Linked DNA regions of Homo sapiens: region 1 is linked to region 2. The links come from fine-mapping of genetic effects on gene expression. A gene starts in region 2. The other region holds a variant in brackets. All regions are shown on one strand. Distances are from middle to middle.

Evidence for each region. PIP is the estimated chance that this variant, and not a neighbour inherited with it, causes the effect.
Region 1: its variant is fine-mapped to the expression of LTBR in synovium (Steinberg 2020, PIP 0.95).

Annotation. Positions count from the first base shown.
Region 1 is chr12:6,397,320-6,413,244 of GRCh38, forward strand. It overlaps the pseudogene RPL31P10. Among named protein-coding and RNA genes, the nearest start is that of LTBR, 21 kb to the left of the region's middle. The variant CT/C (reference allele first, on the strand shown) is at 7,187.
Region 2 is chr12:6,379,461-6,387,460 of GRCh38, forward strand. It overlaps LTBR (lymphotoxin beta receptor), which reads left to right and starts at 4,702. Exons shown (of 10, transcript NM_002342.3): 1 at 4,702-4,994; 2 at 5,128-5,224; 3 at 5,562-5,687; 4 at 5,767-5,919; 5 at 6,606-6,702; 6 at 6,887-6,984. The coding sequence starts at 4,899. RefSeq lists an enhancer at 3,755-4,620.

The sequences.
Region 1 (15,925 bases), 22 kb after region 2:
GCCTCCCAAAGTGCTGGGATTACAGGCATGAGCCACCGTGCCCGGCCGAACATCGGAAATTTTTAAGTGTCCATTTCCTTACATAAACACCAACTTTGATGTGTTATCAAATATTTTGATCTTTGCCAAACTGAAAGATAGAAAAAAAAAAGTTATCTCAGTGTAATTTTTATTTGGATTTCTTATTGCGAGTGAAGTTTTTCACTTCACTGTGAATGAGTATTTCATTTCATATGAGTGAACATTTCATATGTTAAAGAGCCAGTTGTAATTTATTTTCTACTGACTGTTCATATCTCTATTTTTCTTTTTTTTTTTTTTTTTGACAGGGTCTTGCTCTGTCACCCAGGCTGGAGTGCAGTGGCCCAATCACAACTCTCTGCAGCCTCCACCTCCCAGGCTCAAGTGATTCTCCCACCTCAGCCTCTCTCCAGTAGCTGGGACTACAGACACACACCACCACGCCAGGTTACTTTTTAAATTTTTTGTAGAGATGAGGTTTCACCATGTTGCCCAGGCTGGTCTCAAACTCCTGAGCTCCTTCTGCCTCAGTCTTCAAAGTGCTGGGATTACAGGTGTGAGCCATCACACTTGGCCTCCTATATTTCTATTAGTTTTCAAATGTTATCTTTTTATCTCCAGTCATCTATTGAACAATAATTTTTTCTTCACTAATTTAAAACTACTGTTATGATAAGCCAAGTTTTTGTGCAAGTTTGAATTTACTTCTGGATTTTCAATTCTCTCTCATTGATCCGTCTTTTCAATTTGCCAACATTACAGTCTTTCAATTGTTTTAGCTTTATATTTTAATATCTATTAGGGCCAGTAGCTCCTTTTATTCTCTGTTTTTAAGAATTTTTCTAACTATATTTTCTTCCTTTTCCACATGAATTTTAGGACCTGTTTATTTAGTTCACTCCCCCTCCAAAAGAAAGGCTCCTTTGAGGATGTGTTTTGAGATTGTATTGAATTTACAAATCAATTAGTGTGTTGGGTTTGTTTGTTTGTTTTTAATTTGAGACAGAGTTTCGCTCTGTCACCCAGGCTGGAGTGCAGTGGTGCGATCTCGGCTCACTGCAACCTCCGCCTCCCGGGTTCAAGCGATTCTCCTGCCTCAGCCTCCTGAGTAGCTGGGATTACAGGTGCATGCTACCATGCCCGACTAATTTTTGTATTTTTAGTAGAGATGGGGTTTCACCATATTGGCCAAGCTGGTCTCGAACTCCTGACCTCAAGTGATCCACCTGCCTCAGCCTTCCAAAGTGCTGGGATTACAGGCATGAGCTACCGTGCCGGGCCGGGTCTTCTTTTCAAGAACATGATATACCCTTCTATTTGTTGATACCCTCCTCTTTGTGTCCTCAGTAGCATTTTAATGTTTCCTTAATATGGGCATTTCTCATTATAGTCATTCCTTGGTGTTTTACCTTTATAAGTGCTATAAAAATGGGATTTTTTAGTTTTGTTTTCTTTCTTTTTCCCCAGCCACCTACTGAATTCCCTCATGATCTATAATAGTTTTTTTGTTTTGTTTTGTTTTTGTTTCTTTTCTGAGACAGAGTCTCACTCTGTCACCCAGGCTGGAGTGCAGTGGTGTGATCTCAGCTCACTGCAAGCTCCGCCTCCCGGGTTCACGCCATTCTCCTGCCTCACCCTCCCTAGTAGCTGAGACTACAGGCGCCCGCCACCACGCCCGCCTAATTTTTTGTATTTTTAGTACAGACGGGGTTTCACCGTGTTAGCCAGGATAGTCTCGATCTCCTGACCTTATGATCTGCCCACCTCGACCTCCCAAAGTGCTGGGATTACAGGCGTGAGCCACCGCGCCTGGCCTATAACAGTTTTTCAATTAATTTTCTTAGGTTATCACCTACAAATAATGCTAATTTTGTAATAATTTTTCTAGAAACAAGTTATTGCCATGTTGCCCAGGCTGGTACCGAACTCCTAGGCTCAAGCAATCTGCCCACCTTGGCCTCCCAAAGTGCTGGGATTACAGGTGTGAGCCACCACACCTGGCCTATAACAGTTTTTCAATTAATTTTCTTAGGTTATCACCTACAAATAATGCTAATTTCATAGTAATTTTTCTAGAAACAAGTTATTGCCATGTTGCCCAGGCTGGTACCGAACTCCTAGGCTCAAGCAATCTGCCCACCTTGGCCTCCCAAAGTGCTGGGATTACAGGTGTGAGCCACCGCACCTGGCCTATAACAGTTTTTCAATTAATTTTCTTAGGTTATCACCTACAAATAATGCTAATTTCATAATAATTTTTCTAGAAACAAGTTATTGCCATGTTGCCCAGGCTGGTATTGAACTCCTAGGCTCAAGCAATCTGCCCACCTTGGCCTCCCAAAGTGCTGGGATTACAGGCGTGAGCCACCGCGCCTGGCCCTAATATTTTTAAATCTCATCTAAATGCATCTCATAGTACCTCCAGAACAATAGTAAATAGTAATGGACAGCTCTGTCTCAATCCTGATTTTAAGGGCAATACTTCCAGTATTTTCTCATTAAGCAGCAGTTGAAATACGTATATTTATTTTATTATGCTAAGGAAGTATCCATATCTTATTATTTCATAATAATCCAATGGATAATGAATAAATAATAGAAACGGAAAGACCAGATCAAAGGCTACTGCAATAGGGAGATGGAGAAAGGTGGAAGGTTGGAGATATGCCTTAGAGATAGAGTCAACAGGATTTATTGGTGGGCGTGGGTCCCAGCTCATATTTTATGGCCTTGGGTATTAGTTTGTTTAATCTGAGCCTCACATTCAAATTAACATTTGGTAAACATTAAGTGAGAATTTACTATGTACTAGTCATCTTAAGATACAACAGCCAACGAGACAGACCTGATACATAAACTTCTGGAGCTTGTAAAATAATCACAATTATTGCTTTTGTAGACAAGTGCTACAAAAGAGAAGCACAACATATAACCAGTGACCGATTCTAGGTCTGGAGATGAGGAAATTCCTCCCTGAGGAAATTTAAGATACAACCTGAAGAATAAATAAGGGCTAGCCAAATTGAAGGGGTGTTGGAGAGGAGAGCTCTGCTGGTGGGTTAAATGGTACGTGCAAAGGCCCTGTGATAGGAAGAATAGTTTGGCTGGAACTTGGGAATAGAGAGATGAAGCTAGAGAAGTAGGCGGGTAACACGTCATTCAGACTTACAGACTACAGCAATTTTGAACTTTACCCTAAGAGCAATAGGAAACCAGTAAAATTTTTTTCCAGTGTAGTAAAGTATATATATATAAATATATATGTTATATGTGTGTGTGTGTGTATATATACACACATACATATAAAATATGTGTATATAGTGTATATATACACACATATATATAAAATATGTGTGTGTGTGTGTGTGTGTGTGTGTGTATATATATTTTTTTTTTCACTCTGTTGCCCAGGCTGAAGTGCAGTGGCATAATCTCGGCTCACTGCAACCTCTGCCTCCCAGGTTCAAGAGATTCTCCTGTCTCAGCTTCCCTAGTAGCTGGGACTACAGGCGTGCACCACCACACCTGGCTAATTTTTGTATTATTAGTAGTGATGGGGTTTCACCATGTTGGCCAGGCTGGTCTCGAACTCCTGACCTCAAGTGATCCACCTGCCTTGGCCTCCCAAAGTACTTGGATTACAGTCATGAGCCACTTCACCCGGCCTGTAAAGTATATAAAGTATATTAATCTTAAGTGTATAGCCTGAAGAAGTGTTACATAGGTATATACCCATGTTACCATCACAGAAGATATGCAACATTTTACTTCCTTAGAAGATAACTTCATGCCACTTTCCACTCAGTCATGCTTACTGCTTGAGTTCCAGTTTATATTCTGGCAGACATATGACATCCCAGAGATATCCACTTTCCTATTTTGACTTATATCCCCATCAGTTAGTATTTGTTTGTTTGTTTGTTTTTAAGATGGAGTCTCCCTCTTGTCGCTCAGGCTGGAGTGCAGCGGTGCTATCCTGGCTCACTGCAACCTCTGCCTCCCAGGTTCAAGCGATTCTCCTGCCTCAGCCTCCCGAGTAGCTGGGATTACAGGCGCCCACTCACCTGGCTAATTTTTGTATTTTTAGTAGCGACGGGGTTTCGCCATGTTGGCCAAGCTGGCCTTGAACTCCTGGCCTCAAGCCATCTGCCCATTTCGGCCTCCCGAAGTGCTGGGATTACAGACATGAACCATCACGCCTGGCTCATTTGGGTTTTTTTTCTTAATGAGTTTTTAGTTTGGAAAAATTTTAGAATTACAGAAAAGTTGCAAAGATAGTACAGAGGGTTTTGGTATACCTTTCACCCAGCTGCCCTTAATGTTAATATCTCACATAGCCATGATACATTTGTCAAAACTAATTAAGAAATTAACATATCAACTAAACTACAGATTTTATTTAGATTTCACCAGTTTTTTTCCTTAAATCCTTTTTCTGTTCCAGAATCCAATCCAGGATACCACATTGCACTTAGTGATTATGATCCCTTAATATTTAGTCTTCTCTGATCTGTGACAGTTTCTGTCTTTCCTTATGCTGAGACAGGCAGATCGCTTAAGTCCACAAGCTCGAGACTAGCCTAGGCAACATGGCTAAACCCTGTCTCACAAAAAAAAATACAAAAATTAGCCTGGTGTGCTGATGTGTGCTTCTAGTCCCACCTACTTGAGGGGCTGAGGTGAAAGGATTTCTAGAGCCCGGGAGGTCGAGGCTGCAGTGAGATGTGATCCCACCCTGCACTCCAGCCTGGGAGACAGAGCGAGACTGTCTCACAAAGTGAAAAAAAAAAAGAAAAGAAAAAGGAAAAAGCAACTGCCAACCTGTCTCCAAAGTGACTATATCATTTTGCATTCCCAAAAGCAATGAATGAGAGTTCCTGTTGCACATCTTCACCCGCATTTGGTGATGGTGGCAGTGTTTTAGAAATTCTAGTAAGACCAGCATTTGGTGATGGTGGCAGTGTTTTAGAAATTCTAGTAAGACCAGCATTTGGTGGTTGGTGGCAGTTTTAGAAATTCTAGTAAGACCAGCATTTGGTGGTTGGTGGCAGTGTTTTAGAAATTCTAGTAGGACCAGCATTTGGTGATGGTGGCAGTGTTTTTTTTTATTTTTTATTTTTATTTATTTTATTTATTTATTTTTTTGAGACGGAGTCTTGCTCTGTCACCCAGGCTGGAGTGCAGTGGCGCGATCTCGGCTCACTGCAAGCTCCGCCTCCCGGGTTCACGCCATTCTCCTGCCTCAGCCTCCTGAGTAGCTGGGACTATAGGCGCCCATCACCACACCCAGCTAATTTTTTTTATTTTTAATAGAGGTGGGGTTTAACCATGTTAGCCAGGATGGTCTCAATCTCCTGACCTCGTGATGATGGTGGCAGTGTTTTAGAAATTCTGGTAAGACCAGTATTTGGTGGTTGGTGGCAGTGTTTTAGAAATTGTAGTAAGACCAGCATTTGGTGGTTGGTGGCAGTGTTTTAGAAATTGTAGCACGACTAGCATTTGGTGGTTGGTGGCAGTGTGTTAGAAATTCTAGTAAGACCAGCATTTGGTGGTTGGTGGCAGTGTTTTAGAAATTCTAGTAAGACCAGCATTTGGTGGTTGGTGGCAGTGTTTTAGAAATTGTAGTAGGTGAGCAGTGGTACCTCATTGTGGTTTTAATTTTCATTTCTCTAATGACAAATGCTGTTAACCAACTTTCATATGCTTATTTGCCATCCAGGTATTTTATTTTCTGAAGTGTCTCTTTAGATATTTTGCTTGTTATTAAATTGGATCATTCGGCAGTGTGCAGTGGCTCACGCCTATAATCTCAGCACTTTGGAAGCCCTAGGCGGCTGAATCGCTTGAGGTCAGGAGTTCGAGACCAGTGTGACCAACATGGCGAAACCCCATCTCTACTAAAAATACAAACATTAGGCCGGGCATGGTGGCTCACGCCTGTAATCCCAGCACTTTGGGAGGCCGAGGTGGGCGGATCATCTGAGGTCAGGAGTTCAAGACCAGCCTGACCAACATGGAGAAAGCCCGTCTCTACTAAAAATACAAAATTAACCGGGCATGGTGGAGCATGCTTGTAATCCCAGCTACTCGGGAGGCTGAGGCAGGAGAATCACTTTAACCGGGGAGGCACATGTTGTGGTGAGCCGAGATCGTGCCATTGCAATCCAGCCTTGGCAACAAGAGCAAAACTCCATCTCAAAAAAAAAAAAAAAAACGCAAAATACAAAAATTAGCCAGGTGTGGTGGCACGTGCCTGTAATAATCCCAGCTACTCAGGAGGCTGAGGCAGGAGAATCGCTTGAACACGGGAGGCAGAGGTTGCCGTAAGCCAAGATCACGCCACTGCACTCCAGCTTGGGTGACAGAGTGAGATTCTGTCTCAAAAAAAAAAAAAAAGAAAGAAAGAAAGAAAGAAAAAGAAGAATTATTTATTCTGGATAGAAGTCCTTTATCAGATACATTATTTGCAAATATTTTCTCCCAGGCTGTGGATTGTCTATTCATTTTCTCAACCTATCTTTCACAGAACAAAAGTTTTTATTTGTGATAAGGTACAATTCATCATTTTTTTCTTTATGAATTGTGTTTCCAGTACCAGAAAACTTATCACCAAACCTAAGGTTACACACACACAGGGTCTCCTGTGCTTTTTTCTAGATGTCTTACTTTCTACATTTAAGTTTATGAGCCATTTTTTGGTGTAAGTGTGAGGTACGTGTTGAGGTTTTTTGGTTTTGTTTTTACATATGAATGTCTAATTTTTCCAGCACTGTTTGTTGAAAAGACTGTTCTTTCACCACTGGATTGCCTTTGCATCTTTGTCAAAAATCAGTTGACATTATTTGTGTGGGTTTATTTCTGGTCTCTCTATTGGCTCTATTCACCTAAGTTGTCTACTCTTTCGCTAATACCACACTAATTGCTTTCTAATAAGTCTAATAAGTGGTAGAGTAATTTCTCCTACTATTTTTTTAGTTCCTTTTCATTTCTTTCCCTTTTCATATAAATTTTAGAATCAGTTTGTCAATTTCTATCAAAAAAAAGCTTCCTATGATTTTGATTGATAATGCATTGAATCTATAGATCAAACTGGGGAGAATTAACATATTTACAATATTGAATTTTCTAATCTATGAATACAGTATATCTTTCTATTTATTTATAC[CT/C]TTTTTTTTTTTTTTTTGAGGCGAGGTATCACTCTGTCACCCAGACTAGAGTGCAGGCTAGAGTGCAGTGGTGCAATCATAGCTCACTGCAACCTTGAACTCCTGTGCTCAAGTGATCTTCCCACCTCAGTCTCCTAAGTAGCCGAGAGTACAGGCACATGCCACCATGCCTGAGTAATTTTTTATTTTGTGTAGAGACTGCGTCTTTCTGTGTCGTCCAAGCTGGTCTCGAACTTCTGGCCTCAAGTGATCCCCCTGCCTCAACCTCCCAAAGCACTGGGATTACAGGTGCACCCAGCCCACACCCAGCCCACACCCAGCCCCCACCCAGCCTACACCTAATCATTTATTTATATCTTTGTTGATTTCCTTTTTCTTTTCTTTTTTTTAATTTAGCCAGCTTTTTTTAAATTTTAACTTTTTTTTGGAGGGGAAAGGGAGTGGTCATGGACATACTGAAGTAGACACAAAAATATAGAGAATACTGCACTTCCCAGGGCTCGTCACACGTGCTTCAAAAATTACCAACAACTTGCCATTTTGTTTCATTATCTGCACCCACAATGGTGGATGAGGGAGTCTAAAAAATATCCCAAACATGAAATCTCAAAAATGTGATTTTAATCATGAATATTTTCACAAACATCCTAACAGATATGAATATAGAGAAAATACACTAAGATTTCACACCTAAGAAAATTTTAAAAATGACTTATAACATTATCCAATACCTAGCCCTTAAAGAAAGGAAATCCTGAATTGTCTGAAATATTTTTTATACTGATTTTGTCTGAATGAGGTCCCACCAGCTCCAAATATGGCATCTGATGGCTGTTCCTCTTAAATCTATTATAATCCATAAATTTACCCAAGTCTCCAAGTAGCCTGTCTGCTCTTTGAAAAAGGAATTGAGAGACCATAATCTGAGTGAAAATTCTCACTGATCATGGATTGTCATTGCTTTTAAACCATTCTTTGAAAAGTATTGCAGAAAAAAATGTTTTGTTTTCTTTTTTTTTGAGACAGAGTCTCACTCTGTCTCCCAGGCTGGAGTGCAATGGCGCAATCTCGGCTCACTGCATCCTCCACCTCCCAGATTCAAGCAATTCTCCTGCCCCAGCCTCCCGAGTAGCTGGGACTACAGGCGCGCTCCACCACGCCCTGCTAATTTTTGTATTTTTAGTAAAGACCGGGTTTCACCATGTTGGCCAGGCTGGTCTCAAACTCCTGACCTCCTGTGATCCGCCTGCCTCAGCCTGCCAAAGTGCTGGGATTACAGGCGTGAGCCACCGCGCCCGGCCAAAGGTGTGTTTTTTATGAGAGTATTTTTAAAAACATTCAAATTGTCGGTCACAGCTCCTTGCCTATGCGCCTAAAAAGAGATAGCCCAAGACAGACGGGGGAAAGAAAAGGGGAGACAGAAACAAAAAGAAAACTGGCAAACAGAGGAGAAGTCCAAAAGCCCAACTCCCATAAGTCAAGACTTCCCACAGTTCTCTAAGTCAGCAAATGAATGTAATTTAAACTGCTTTAAACGTCATACAAAAATAAATCCTTTTTAGTAAATCGATAAACAGAGGCATCTCCGTGACGACTGGTGGCAGCATGTACTCCTCCTTTTCTAAAACAAGGAGTTCTAAAACAACTCAAGGCAGCAGAGAGCCCTGAGTTGCAAACATGAAAAGCATAACTTTCTCGAGTTGGCTGTTAAGTGTAATAGGAGAGGCACCACTCCACTCCTACCTCTCCTTTCTTTAACCAATGCATTTTGGCTACAGAAGAAATTATGCCTATTCTTAGTCACTATTAAGCACATATACAATGTCGAAAATTGAACAGTACTCCAAGAGGGTGCAAAATGACTACATGCCACTTTAACTGAGGCTTCCAAAAATTGAGATTTCTACTTATAAGGAATGTGGTACACATTAGAACTACTGAGTCCCATGGTCATCCATGCATTACCTTACCCTTTTTGTATAACTTATAGAAATGGGTCCAAAAAGACGTTGTGAGATATGAGGTATGAAGTGTTCAGTAAGTTCATTGATGGTCCTGCTAGCAATAGCATGTAAGTGAAGCATATCCAAATCTAGAGTAAGTGTTTATCTCAGTGAAGACAAATCCCTGCCCCATCCATGACAAAATACTTGCAAGAATACAAGAATACTTCCCCTGACATATGGGACACTTAGCAGCATCAGCATCCAGAGGTCAGCCTTGGTGAGCTAAGTCTATACTATAGAGCTCAAGTATAACCTCTACCACTGCCTGCCACCCTAGTCACATTTTTTTTTTTTTTTTTTGAGATAGAGTCTCACTCCGTCACCCAGGCTGGAGTGCAATGGCGTGATCTCAGCTCACTACAACCTCCACCTCCCAGGTTCAAGTGATTCTCCTGCCTCAGCCTCCCGAGTAGCTGGGATTGCAGTCACCCGCCACCAGGCCCGGCTAATATTTGTATTCTTAGTAGAGATGGGGTTTCACCATGTTGGCCAGGCTGGTCTCAAACTCCTGACCTCAGATGATCCACCCACCTCGGCCTCCCAAAGTGCTGGCATTATAGGCGTGAGCCACCACGCTGGCCACATTGTTTACAAATAAATCACTTGGGCAGTAAGTGGGGTGATACGAAGAGACTACATGACAGCCATATGGTTGATGTGTACCTGATTGCTGATAGCCTCCTCTGAAGAGTGGGAATTTCGATTAGCATTCACGTGGGACATTATTCTCATATTCTGGGACCGTTCTGGGAAATTCATCCACATCACTGTTTCCTGAAACTTCTTGTCAACACAACCTTCACTTTTGCCCACTTAAAATCTCTGTCTATCCACACCATTAGCCATGCACATTCAGTTTAGATCAGTGTCTTAGGTCACGCTCCTTCCAGAAAAAGTAAACAATGACATTCAATACTCCAAATACTGCTGAGTGGCAGCAATTCTTTCCCTATTGCCAATTATGGACATATTTGACTGGGGTAATATTATTACGGCTTCTAATACTACTGTTACAATTGGCTTCAGTAGTATTAGCCAACATATGTTGAATGCTTACTATGTACAGGACAGTGTTCTAAGCATACTAAAACTATTCGCTCATGAGAGGCACGATTACCTCTCCATTTTTAAAATGAGGGGAAAAGCCAGAGGAAAATAAGAAGAAAAAAGAAAAAAGCCAATTTGTCTGGAACTGGTTAGTAATGGGCTGAACTTGTAGCATTCAGTTTTTCTTTTCTTTCTTTCTCTTTTATTTATTTATTTATTTATTTATTTATTTATTTATTTCTTGAGACGGAATCTCCATCGCCCAGGCTGGAGTGCAGTGGTGCAGTCTTGGCTCACCGCCTCCTCCGCCTCCTGGGGTCAAGCAATTCTCTTGCTTCAGCCTCCCAAGTAGCTGGGATTACAGGCGTGTGCCAACACACTGGGCTAATTTTTGTATTTTTAGTAGAGACGGGGTTTCACCATGTTGGCCAGACTGGTCTTGAACTCCTGACCGCAAGTGATCCGCCCGCCTCGGCCTCCCAAAGTGCTGGGATTACAGGCAGGAGCCACCATGCCCGGCCCCATGTTGATTTCTTTCGTCAGTATTTTGTAGTTTTTAGCACACATATCTCCCACGTATTTTGTTATATTTATACCTAAAAACTTCATGGGGGCTGCTATTGTAAATGGTATTCTATAAACTACAGTACGTTGTTTCTTTGTATAGATCCAAGATTTTGATTATATTTCTTCTTCTTCTTTCTTTTTTGAGACGAAGTTTCACTCTGTTCAACCCAGGCTGACACAATCTCGGCTCCCTGCGACCTCCGCCTCCCGGGTTCAAGCAATTCTCCTGCCTCAGCCACTTGAGTAGCTGGGACTACAGGCGCCCACCACCACGCCCAGATAATTTTTGTGTTTTTAGTAGAGACAGGGTTTCACCATGTTGGCCAGGCTGGTCTCAAACTCCTGACCTCAAGTGATCACCCGCCTTGGCCCCCCAAAGTGCTGGGATTACAGGCGTGAGCCACCACACCCAGCCTCTTCTTCTTAGAGAACTTGCTTTGACATTTATTATAAAGTAGGTCTGCTGGCAATCAACTTCCTCAGTTTCTGTTTGTCTGATAAACTTTTAATTTTGGCCTGGTGTAGTTGCTAATGCTTGTAATCCCAGCATTTTGGGAGGCTGAGGTGGGAGGATCACTGGAGTCCAGGAGTTTCAGACCATCCTGGGAAACGTAGTGAGACCCCGTCTCTAAAAAAATAAAAATAAAAATAGAAAACTCTTAATTTGGGCCAGGCACAGTGGCTCACGCCTGTAATCCTAGCACTTTGGGAGGCCAAGGTTGGTGGATCACCTGAAGTCAGGAGTTTGAGACTAGCCTGGCCAACATGGCGAAAACCCGTCTCTACTAAAAATACAAAAATTAGCTGGGTATGATGGCAGGCACCTAGCTGAGGCAGGAGAATCACTTGAACCCGGGAGGCGGAGGTTGCAGTGAGCCAAGATCATGCCACTGCACTCCAGCCTGAGTGATGGAGCGAGACTCCATCTCAAAAAAAAAAAAAAAAAAGATATTACTCCATTTCATTTTGCTTTTATTGTTTCTGACTAGCAGTCTGCTGTAATTCTTATCCTCGCTCCTCGGTAAGATATTATGTTTTTTCCCCCTTGGCTGACTTCCAGATTTTCTTTCTCTTTGGTTTTCAGCAGTTTTAATATGATATGCCTAGATGCATGGGTTTGGTGAGGGGCTGTGTTGTTTTGGTATTTATCCTGCTTGGTGTTCTCTGAGCTTCCTTGATCTGTGCTTTTCTGTCTGTTACTAATTTTGGATAATTCTAAGCCATTATCTCTTCAAATGTTTCTCCTGTCTTATTCTTTTTGTTCGTTTGTTTGTTTGTTTAACTAAGTCTGATTAGACAAATCCTGTCCAAGTCTTTCTTCTCCTTCTGGAATTCCAATTATGGGCATGTTAACTCATTTGGTATTCTTGGATGGTGTCTTCTTTCTTTCTTTTTTGTTGTTGTTCTGTTTTGTTTTTTACCCACTCTTTTTTTGCACTTCAGTTTGGGTAATTCCTCTTTATTTTTTTGCAATTTTATAACTTTATTTGATGTATTTGACTATCAGCGATTAGTTCTCATCCACATTGACTGTCTGTAGATTTTTGAAAGTGGTAGCAAATACATAGGTAACCAAAGTATAGAGCTTATTTGTGAATCTTCATCCTCATTACGTTTTCTGGACAGCCGCACATGGATTCGGTGTCGGACATTCCTTATTCCTTTGGCCCAGACAGCTTTGTTGAGCCTGGTATCAATGCGCACATCTGGAGTTTCCATCTCCTTCATGGCAAATTTCCGAATCTCTTTGAGTGCCCGAGGGGCACGCTTCTTGAAGCCTACTCCACAAATGCGCTTGTGAATGTTGATGGTGTATTCTCGGGTCACCACTTCGTTGATGGCAGAACGGCCCTTTTTCTTCTCGCCACCCTTCTTTGTGGGAGCCATTCTGCCATGTCCAAGTTGGAAAGGGAGTTTGGGAAATTTCTATTGACCTCTACACCCAAGGTCACTGATTCTTTTCTCAGCTATACTGAGTCTACTGATGAACCAGTCAAAGGTGTTCTTCATTTCTGTCACCACGATTTTATTTCAAGCATTTCCATTTTATTCTTATGGTTTCCTCTGCTGAATTTATCCATCTTCTTTTGGCATGTTGTCTACCTTTTCCATTAAATCCTTTAACATAATCATGTTACTTTAAATTCCATGTCTGATGTCATATCTGAGTCTGGTTCTGATTTTTTTTTTTTGTCTTTTTAGATTGTGTCTTTTTCTTTTTTTTGAAACGGAGTATTGCTCTGTCACCCAGGTTGGAGTGCAGTGGCATGATCTCTGTTCATTGCAACCTCTGCTTCCTGGGTTCAAGCAATTCTCCTGCCTCAGCCTCCCCAGTAGCTGGGTTGACAGGCATGCGCTACCATGCCTAGCTAATTTTTGTATTTGTAGAGAGGGGTTTCACCATACTGGCCAGGCTGATCTTGAACTCCTGACCTCGTCATCCGCCTGCCTTGGCCTCCCTAAGTACTGAGACTACAGGTGTGAGCCACCATGCCCAGTCCAGATTGTGTTTTTTCTTTCCTTTTTGTATACCTTGTGGTTTTCATTGAAAGCTGGATATGCTGTATAACACAACAGATACTGACATAAATATTTTGTATTCTTGAAGATAAGCATTCATTTCTTTCTGCTACTTCTCTAGTATAGAGATTTCCATTAATGTAGTCAGGAGGGCTGGGTTTGAAGTTTGCTTTTGCACCAACATATATTATTATCCTCAGTGCATCAGGGGCTTAAAATTCCTCTAGTGGTGCCTTGTTTTTGTCTCTTGGATTTGTATCTTCCTTTTGCACTGTTCCCTAAATAAAGTCTGTCTCTTGCAAGTTCTCCCAGATACATTCTTGTATTATTTTTCACTGGAGGCCTGTCATGTGGTGGTAGGCTATGAAGGAGGTTATGTGTTCCCTTGTGTTATGATTGAGGCTCAGCCTTAGGTAGGCACTATGAACCTGGATCTTGGGAGTGTGGCCTTCATAATTGCCCTTCCTCCAGGTATAATGGTTGGCCTGGCAATTATTCCGGTCCTCACTAAAAGGAAGAACTTCTTCTTTTTTCCCCTGTTCCCTTCCCCTAATTTCAGTGGGTTTCCACCAATGCCCTCTGCCCATAAGTTTTGTGTTTTCTGTTTTTTTGAGACAGAGTCTCACTCTGTCCCCCAGGCTGAAGTGCAGTGGTGCGATGTTGGCTCACTACAACCTCTGCGTGATGGGTTGAAGCGATTCTCCTGCCTCAGCCTCCTAAGTAGCTGGGATTACAGGTGCCCACCACCTGGCTAATTTTTGTATTTTTAGTAGAGATGGGGTTTCGCCACGTTGGCCAGGCTGGTCTCAAACTCCTGACTTCAAGTGACCCACCCACCTCAGCCTCCCAAAGTGCTGGGATTATAGGCATGAGCCACAGCATCCGGCCTGCCTGTAAGTTTTTATGACCTTCCCCTTGCAGATGAAGTCTTGTCCTAAAGGAATGGAGTCTTGGCCATAGCTGCTGTTCCGTTCCCCACCCCCAGCAAGCACCATGGAGCAGAGGGTGTCAGAATTCTCCCATTTCACCTATCTTCCTGTGGGTGATTGATGGGGGTCCTGAAAGAAAAGCCTGAAAGAAAGCGCAAGACTCCCTTTGTCTGCAGCTTCCAGGGACTTCATACTCTCTTAATCACCAACAGTAGGCCACTATTAATTGTTAAAAATGTCCAGCTTAATTTTCTTACTTAAGTAAGGAATGCTCAGGTACTGTTTCCCCCTGTAGGTACCTGTCTCTCTCTCGGTTTCAGGTTGTCTGCCCTGTGACCTCAATTCTCTTAGGAGATCCAGAAAAGTCATTCATGTGCAGCTTTTCCAGCTCTTTTCTTGTTGCATAGCTGGGAGCAACACTCTTGCCATCGTTTCAGTTTGGACCAGAAGTCCACTAAAGGACTTTAAGCAGGGAAAGGAAATGTTCAGATATGTTTTTTTTTTTTTTAAGATGGAGTCTCGCTCTGTTGCCCATGCTGGAGTGCAATGCCTCGATCTCGGCTCACGGCAATCTCCGCCTCCCAGGTTCAAGTGATTCACCTGCCTCAGCCTCCCAAGTAGCTGGGATTACAGGCGTGCACCACCACGCCTGGCTAATTTTGTATTTTTAGTAGAGACTGGGTTTCACTATATGTTGGCCAGGCTAGTCTTGAACTTCTTCAATATTGTGTTGGCTATTCTGGATCTTTTGCTTCTCCATATAAACTCTATAATCAGTTTGGCAATATCCATAAAATAGCTTGCTAAGAGTTTTACTGGGATTGCATTGAATCTATAGATCAAGTTGGAAAGAACTGACATCTTGACAATATTGAGTCTTCTTCTCCAGGAACATGGAATATCCTTCCATTTATTTTCTTTGATTTCTTTCATCAGAATTTTGTAGTTTTCCTCATATAGATGATTTTTTTTTTTTTTTTGAGATGGAGTCTCACTCTGTCTCCCAGGCTGGAGTGTGGTGGCACGATCTCTGCTCACTACAAGCTCAGCCTCCTGGGTTCAAGCAATTCTCCTGTCTCAGCCTCCCGAGTAGCTGGGATTACAGGCGCCTGCCACCACGCCCGGCTATTTTTTGTATTTTTAGTATAGGTGGAGTTTCACCATATTGGTCAGGCTGGTCTAGAACTCCTAACCTCAGGTGATCCATCCACCTTGGCCACCCAAAGTGCTGGGATTACAGGAGTCAACCACTGTACCCATCCCCCATGTGGATCTTGTACATATTTTGTTATACCTAAGTGTTTCTTTTGGGGGAGGCTTCTAATATACTTGGTATTGTGTATTTAATTTCAAAGTCTATTTGTTCATTGATGATATCTAGGAAAGCAATTGACCTTTGTGTATTAACCTTGTATCCTGAAAACTTGCCATAATTGTCTACTGGGGCTGAGCGTGGTGGACCAAGCCCTGTAATCCCAGCACTTTGGGAGGCTGAGGCAGGGGGATCCCCTGAGGTCAGGAGTTCAAGACAAGCCTGGCCAATGTGATGAAACCCCGTCTCTACTACAAACACAAAAATTAGCCAGGCGTGGTGGTGGGTGCCTGTAATCCCAGTTACTCAGGAGGCCAAAGTAGGAGAATCGCTTGAACCAGGGAGGCGGAGGTTGCA
Region 2 (8,000 bases):
CTTTATTCTTACTACTTGGAGCTAATTAGCCACTTCACACTGGGGGCTGCCCACTGTGGAAGACAACAGTCCTTTCAGCTGCCCTTATGTGGTACAGATTTCTCTTTCATTTAAAATGATGGACCAGAAAAATGCCACTCTTCATCTAGTCCCCTGGCAGTTTACTTAGAAGTTCACTACTAGAAGTTGGCCGGGCATGGTGGCTCACGCCTGTAATCCCAGCACTTTGGGAGGCCGAGGCGGGTGGATCATGAGGTCAGGGGATCGAGGCCATCCTGGCTAACATGGTGAAACCCCGTCTCTACTAAAATTACAAAAAAAATTAGCTGGGCATAAGTGGTGCACGCCTGTAGTCCCAGCTACTCGGGAGGCTGAGGCAGGAGAATGGCATAAAACCGGGGAGGTGGAGCTTGGAGTGAGCCAAGATCGTGCCACTGCACTCCAGCCTGGGAGACAAAGCAAGACTCTGTCTCAAAAAAAAAAAAAACAAAAAAAAAAACAAAAAAAGAAGTTCACTACTAGAAGTTTATCACTTTGATTGAAGACAGGGTTTATCAACCTTGGCACTATTGACATTTTCGGCTGTATCATTCTTTGTGGTGGGACAGGATGATTCTGTCCTATCTACAATCCTGTGCAGGATGTTCAGCAGCATCCCTGGCTTCCATCTATTAGATGCTAGTAGCACCTCCTGAGTCATTGTGACCAAAACATCTCCAAATATTGCCAAATGACTTCTGGGGGGCAAAGTCACCCCCGTTGAAAAGACTGGGTTAAGGCATTGTCACCACTGAAAATGCAAATACTCTGGAAAAGGACAACCCTCATCTGTTATGCACTTCTGGGTGTTTGCCAGACCATTTCCAAGAGCACTAGTCAGCTAAGAGCAGAGTGGAGAAGAAGAGAGAAAGAAAAAGTATTTAGAAGAATCCATTCCTGGCCGGGTACAGTGGCTCGTGCCTGTAATCCCAGTACTTTGGGAGGCTAAGGTGGGCGAAATGACTTGAGACCAGGAATTCAAAACCAGCCTGTGGCCAACATGGCAAAACACCATCTCTACTAAAAATACAAAAATTAGCCGGGCCTGTTGGCGCATGCCTGTAGTCCCAGCTACTCAACTTGGGAGGCTGAGGCCAGGAAAATCACTTGAACCTGGGAGGCGGAGGTTGCAGTGAGCTGAGATTGCACCATTGCACTCCAGCCTGGGCGACAGACTGAGACTCTGTCTCAAAAAAAAAAAAAAAAGAAGAAGAAGAAGAAGAAGAATCCATTTCCATCAGCCCCCTTTCTGGATGCCTAATGGGCCTGTGGAAAGAAGGCTCTCTCAGCAGCTCCTTCGGAAGAAGGCCTGGGAGAAGAGTCCCACCCTCACACACCTTCTAGGCGTCCTGGGGTGCTCGGTCTGGGTCTGGTGTTGCCCAGTGGAAATCAGTCTCAGGAGGCTCTGGTGAAAAACACAAAAGGACAGGAGTAAAGACAATGCCCTGCCCGCGGTGAACCTGTGGATTTCTCACCCCTGGAGTCTCCCTTTATCCTCCTGGGGATGGCTGGGCATTATAGTAGCCATTTATTGGTAAGATTTGTCTTTCGTGATCCAGCTGGGAAACAAGAAACACTCTAAGTCTTTCAAACAGAAGAAGTTTAACACAGAGAACTAACTGGTACATGGGTGATGGAGGAGCTGAGAAGACAATGGGAGGCAGCTCAGAAAACAGCAGAGCGGGAAGCAGCTACCATCTCTAGGCCTGGAAAGATGGCAGGGTGATGTAGCATCAAAGACCAAGAAGCCTCCAGAGCCATTTGGCAGGAACTAAATAGTGTGGACTACTGGTAGGAGATGGGATTATGGAAGTGGGGAAGGAAGGAAGACAACCAACTGCAGGTGAAGCCAGAAAGCAGAGAGGAGAGAAATAGCCTGGCTGCTTCACTCCTCCCATCCCACCTCCATCCCACAGACCTGCAAGCAAACCAGTAGCTGACTGACACAATAAAGAGGCACACAGAGATAAAGTGATGGGGCCAGGATCAAAACCCAGATCTCAGGGCTCGTTCCTTAGGGTGTAGAGAGTCCATGAGGGCTGAAGCGCCAGCTTACGGCTGGCAGCAGAAAGAAACATACAGTCCAGCCAGCTGGGGTTAAAAGGGGTCTGGACATAGTGGTTACCTGTGAAGCAGGAAGCTTTGACTGGGAAGGGCATGTAGCAAACATTTGTAGTGCAAGGAACATTCTGGGGCCGGGTGCCGTGGCTCACGCCTGTAATCCCAGCACTTTGGGAGGCCAAGGCGGGTGGATCACAACATCAGGAGTTCAAGACCAGCCTGGTCAACATGGCGAAACCCCATCTCTACTAAAAATACAAAAATCAGCCAGGCATGGTGGCAGGCGCCCGTAATCCCAGCTACTCGGGAGGTTGAGGCAGAGAATTGTTTGAACCTGGGAGGCAGAGGTTGTAGTGAGCCGAGATTGCACCACTGCACTCCAGCCTGGGCGACAAAGCGAGACTCTGTATGGAAAGGAAAAGAGAAAAGAAGAGAAGAGAAGAGGTGTTCTGGACCAGTTGGGGGATATGCAAGAATACACAAAAGTGAAGACTCTCTGAGCTGTATCTGTAAGATCAGTGTACCTTACGGTTTCATTGTATTATATGTTACACCTCTATTAAAAGAAAGGGTCTCAGCAGCATAAGACAGGGTGGGGAAAAAAAGAAAAATAGAATAGAGAAAGAGTCCCTGTCTTTTAGGGTAAAATCCTGAAATATTTTCAAATGAAATGATATGATGTCTGGGATTTACTTCAAAATAATAATGAGGGATTTGAAGAGTGTGTGCGTTGGTGGGGGAGGGGGTATACAGAATAAATGAAACTGACAGTGAGTTGAAGCTGGGTAAGGAGTATATGGGAGACTCCCAATATTACTTTTTCTCTTTTGGTATATTATCTTGCATGTGGAATTTCCACAGTAAAAAGTAAAAAGAAGAGAGAGAAAAAAGGACCTAGGGTCGCTACACACACATTCCTTTACGCGTTTAAGAGCTCAGCAGGGACTCTCATCCCAGCCCCCAGCGCTAGGGCCCTGGAAGGCTCAGCAGCCCCGCGCAGTGCATGCTGTTCTGATACTTCTGCCCTTTCCAGCCATCTTTGGCCCATCTGTACGGTGAGCTGCCTGCACCAGGTGAGGGGAGAGAGCCTCACAGAGTGAAATGCCTACAGCCTAGGCAGGTCCTTTCCCCCTTTTGTGACCTCTCCTCCCCATGCACACTTCCCATCACCTGCACCTGTCCAGACATCAGACCTGAAGTTAGACAGACCAGTGTAAGGACGAGTGCTGAACAGAGTCCTTCAGGGAGGGGGATAGTGCCCAAGTGACCTATCTCAAGAGAGGTTAGCCCCTCATCCCAAGGGAGACATCCCTGAGCCACAAGGAGTTGGCAGGACTGCTGGAATGAGTTGGGACCTAGACATCAGGAGACCCAGATTGTAGCTGGCTCTGCGGTGGACTGGCTCTGTGATGTGGCCATCACTCATTTATTCCATAAATACCTATTGGGCACATGGTATGTGCCAGACTCTGCTAAGCATGGGGAACACAGACTTGAAGATTCAGCCTGGGCCATGGTGGCACTCACAGCCTGGTGGGAAGCAAACAAGACAGCCAGGTACAGAGGGCAGTCTTCACGGGGACTGTGCAACCTAGGGCAGAGGTTGCCTTCCAGAGCCTCAGTGAAGCCTCAAGGACAGGTGGGAGTTAGGAAGACGGAAACTTGGGGACCAGAGAACCACGTGTAAAAGGGGGCAGCTGCAAGTAACTCCACGGGTGGGTGGGGTGTTGGGTTGAGGGAGATGGGAGGATGAAACAGGGCAGGAACGAGACCAGGCCACCCTGGAATCCCGGTTCCCTTATGTATCACCCTTAGCCTCCCTCTCCATGCTTAAGGTGAGGGGGCTGGACTGCGTGGGCTCTCAGCTTTCTCCAGTTCTAAGGGGTTTGAAGGTTCATGGGCAAAGAAGCCAGAGCAGAGGGACTGAGTGCCCAGGTCCAGCCTGCTGGCCCCAGGACTCCCCTCCGCATATCCTCCCCCTCTCTTTGGGAGGGAGGTTCCCTGAGGACAGGGAGCAGGGCAAGCTGCACAGCTCTCAAGGGTCTCCTAGGTGACCTGTGCCCACTCCTGTGCGGATTGGGCTGGGTTGGTAGCGTGGGGGGCTGGCTGATTTGCTAGTCCCTTGTAATTTGTCTGAAAAACTCCCACAGTAGGGCAGGACAACGGGGGAGGAACCCGGGCATCTGCCAGCCGGTTCTCCTCGGTCTCAGAGCTGCTTCTGCGGCCTTGCAGTCCCCGCGCCCTGCCCTCTCCATGACTGCCCGTCCTGGGCCCCTCGCTTTCCAGATCCCGCACCCAGCTGTCCCTTGCGCTCTCTGGAACTCCCTCTGCTCTCCCTGCGAGGCTTGTCCAAGGGCTGACCCCGGGCCCGCCGCCCTTCCCTCGGCTGGGCCAGGGCTGTCCGCAGTCCGCTCTCCCGATCGGGCTTCCGAAGAAGGGAGGAGGCCGGTTCCGGCCCCGCGGCCCTCACGTGCTTTCCCGGCCGCCCCTCCCGCCCCGCATCGAGGCAGACAAGCCTGTTCCTCTTCCCTGGGCTGCGATTGCGACAGGCCGGCCTGGCTCCCAGCGCTCCCTGTCCCCGCCCCGCGGCCAGCTCGCTCCACTCCCACTTCCTGAGCTCCGCCATGGGAGCCCTGGAGGCCCGGCCTGGCCGCTCCCGGCCCTGGGGTGCACATCGGCCCTGAGTCCCGTCCCAGGCTCTGGGCTCGGGCAGCCGCCGCCACCGCTGCCCAGGACGTCGGGCCTCCTGCCTTCCTCCCAGGCCCCCACGTTGCTGGCCGCCTGGCCGAGTGGCCGCCATGCTCCTGCCTTGGGCCACCTCTGCCCCCGGCCTGGCCTGGGGGCCTCTGGTGCTGGGCCTCTTCGGGCTCCTGGCAGCATCGCAGCCCCAGGCGGTGAGGAAGGGGCCTGGTAGGAGTGGGCGAGGGTGGGCAAGAGGGATCTGGGCAGCCGTCGCTCCATTCCCTCTGCCCTCCCAAGCTGACCCCTGACTAATTCTTCTCTCCTCTTCTCCATCTCCCTTTGAAGGTGCCTCCATATGCGTCGGAGAACCAGACCTGCAGGGACCAGGAAAAGGAATACTATGAGCCCCAGCACCGCATCTGCTGCTCCCGCTGCCCGCCAGGTGAGAGGCAATGGCAGGACGAACCTGGGCCTCGGAAGTGGGTCACGGGGGCTCCAGCCCCCTCGCGGCCTCAGAGGGAAGGTGGGCACTGTCCCCCAGGAAAACTGGCTGCTGGAGACGAGCGTGGGAAACCCTGGACATCACGTGGAGGAGATGGGACTGGCCCTCCCCACTGGGCCTCCTCTTTCCTTACCTCACTGAGAGGGAGCCGGAGGGCCACTGGCAGGATGATGGGGGGCCAGAGAGACCGAGGGAAAGGCCAGGGTCACACTACAGGCAGCGGAGGTGAGGGTGGAGCCTCGTCTCCTGAGGCTCTACTGCTCCACTCACGTTCTAGGCACCTATGTCTCAGCTAAATGTAGCCGCATCCGGGACACAGTTTGTGCCACATGTGCCGAGAATTCCTACAACGAGCACTGGAACTACCTGACCATCTGCCAGCTGTGCCGCCCCTGTGACCCAGGTGAGTGGGGATGTGCCTGCGGGGGGGCTGGATCCCCTGGAGCTTGGCCCCTCCCTGAGCCCTCCCGTCTCCCCGCCAGTGATGGGCCTCGAGGAGATTGCCCCCTGCACAAGCAAACGGAAGACCCAGTGCCGCTGCCAGCCGGGAATGTTCTGTGCTGCCTGGGCCCTCGAGTGTACACACTGCGAGCTACTTTCTGACTGCCCGCCTGGCACTGAAGCCGAGCTCAAAGGTCAGAGGTCCCTGAGGGGCTGGATGTGAAAAGGAGGCTGGGTGCCAGGGATCTCAAGTGGGAGCAGGGAATATGGTACTGTGTCCACGGCGACCCCCCAGATCCTTGGCTTAAAATTCCTCTTCTCATTCCATGCAGAGGCTCACAGAAGGGTTCTGGAGGGACATGGAACTGGGACAGGTGCAGGGGACACAGGAGGTGGTTCTTCTCAGTACTGGGAAGCTTGGGCAAAATGGTAGGCAGTAGGCCGGGTGTGGTGGCCCACGCCTGTAATCCCAGCACTTTGGGAGGCCGAGGTGGGCGGATCACGAGGTCAGGAGATCGAGACCATCCTGGCTAACACAGTGAAACCCCGTCTCTACTAAAAATACAAAAAATTAGCCGGGCGTGGTGGTGGGCGCCTGTATCCCAGCTACTCGGGAGGCTGAGGCAGGAGAATGGCGTGAACTTGGGAGGCGGAGCTTGCAGTGAGCCGAGATCGCGCCACTGCACTCCAGCCTGGGCGACAGAGCAAGACTCCGTCTCAAAAAAAAAAAAAAAAAAGGCAGCAAAGCAGAGCTTGGGAAAGGTGAGAGCTACGCAATGGGGTGGATGGGCATCCTGAGGCTTAAAGGAAACTCACAGGCCGGCAAAGGGCCCCTCCCTTTTGCCCATTCACCCTGGCTGGCCTGCCTTTCTCTTGCCAGATGAAGTTGGGAAGGGTAACAACCACTGCGTCCCCTGCAAGGCCGGGCACTTCCAGAATACCTCCTCCCCCAGCGCCCGCTGCCAGCCCCACACCAGGTGAGTGCAGCCCCACCCAAGCTCCTTCCACCCTCTGAGAAGCCTCAGCTGCTAACAACCCCCAGCGCCTATCCTTGACACCACGGACTCGACTCACCACTTTCAGCCTCCCCGCCTGCCCAGTGGAGTCGGGACACTGGTGGGCCAGGGCGTGAAAAGGTCATCATCTTTTTTTCCTCTGCAGGTGTGAGAACCAAGGTCTGGTGGAGGCAGCTCCAGGCACTGCCCAGTCCGACACAACCTGCAAAAATCCATTAGAGCCACTGCCCCCAGAGATGTCAGGTGAGGGACCAGGGCTGAGGGACACGGGGGGGGCGCCTCTGAAAATGCCTTAATGCTCCACATCTTAAAAAAAATGGGGAAAAGATGAACACTTCCCTCCCAGAATTGGGCAAGAAGAAAGTTCCTTACAGAAAAAATTGGAGTATCTCTAGGCTAGTTTACACACACACACACACACACACACACACACACTTTTAAAATTATATATACTGTAATACTATGTCAAGGAACACATCCCACACTGAGATGTAATGATAACTACTATTGTCATCATTTTGGGCTTACCAACATTACACAATCCGTTTTTTTTTTTCACACAATCCATTAACTAGACCAAACACCTCTTTATTAGACTATATACTTTTATTATTAGACAGAAGATTCCCATTTGACTCTTTCTTGACTGTTTCCTGTGGACTGATTGGCTTGCTAGCCTAGTAGATGACTATTGTTTCTAATGACTGTAACATCACTAATTGGCAGAAGGTTCACTGTGTGTGTTGGGCACTCTGTAACCACTTTACATTTACTAACTCATTTAATCTTCTTAATGATGCTATGAAGTAGATTCTATTATCATCCTCATGGACTGAAGGAAGAAACCGAGGCTCAAAGAGGTTAAGTGATATACTCAAGATCACCCACACAGGTGGTCACTGGTGTTATTAGAACCTGTACTCAGGTTTTCTTACTCCAGAGCCCATGTCATAATGCATGCACTATAGAAAATTAGAGACTTCAGATAAGCAAAACTAAAAACTCACCCACAGAGCCACTACCTAGAATATCCACTCGTTACATTGTGGTATATATCCTCCCGGACATTTTCTATGCATGTTTATACATACTGGGTTTTGTTGTTGTTTACTAAAAGTGAAGTAATTTTAATATTTCGTAACCTGATTTTTTCATTCCACAATCTAAGTATTTTTCTGTGCCCTGTTAATTTTTAACTATGTATCAAATACAACTGGCATTTTAGAGCTGGAATTTTAGAGAGTATGTAAGCTAACCTC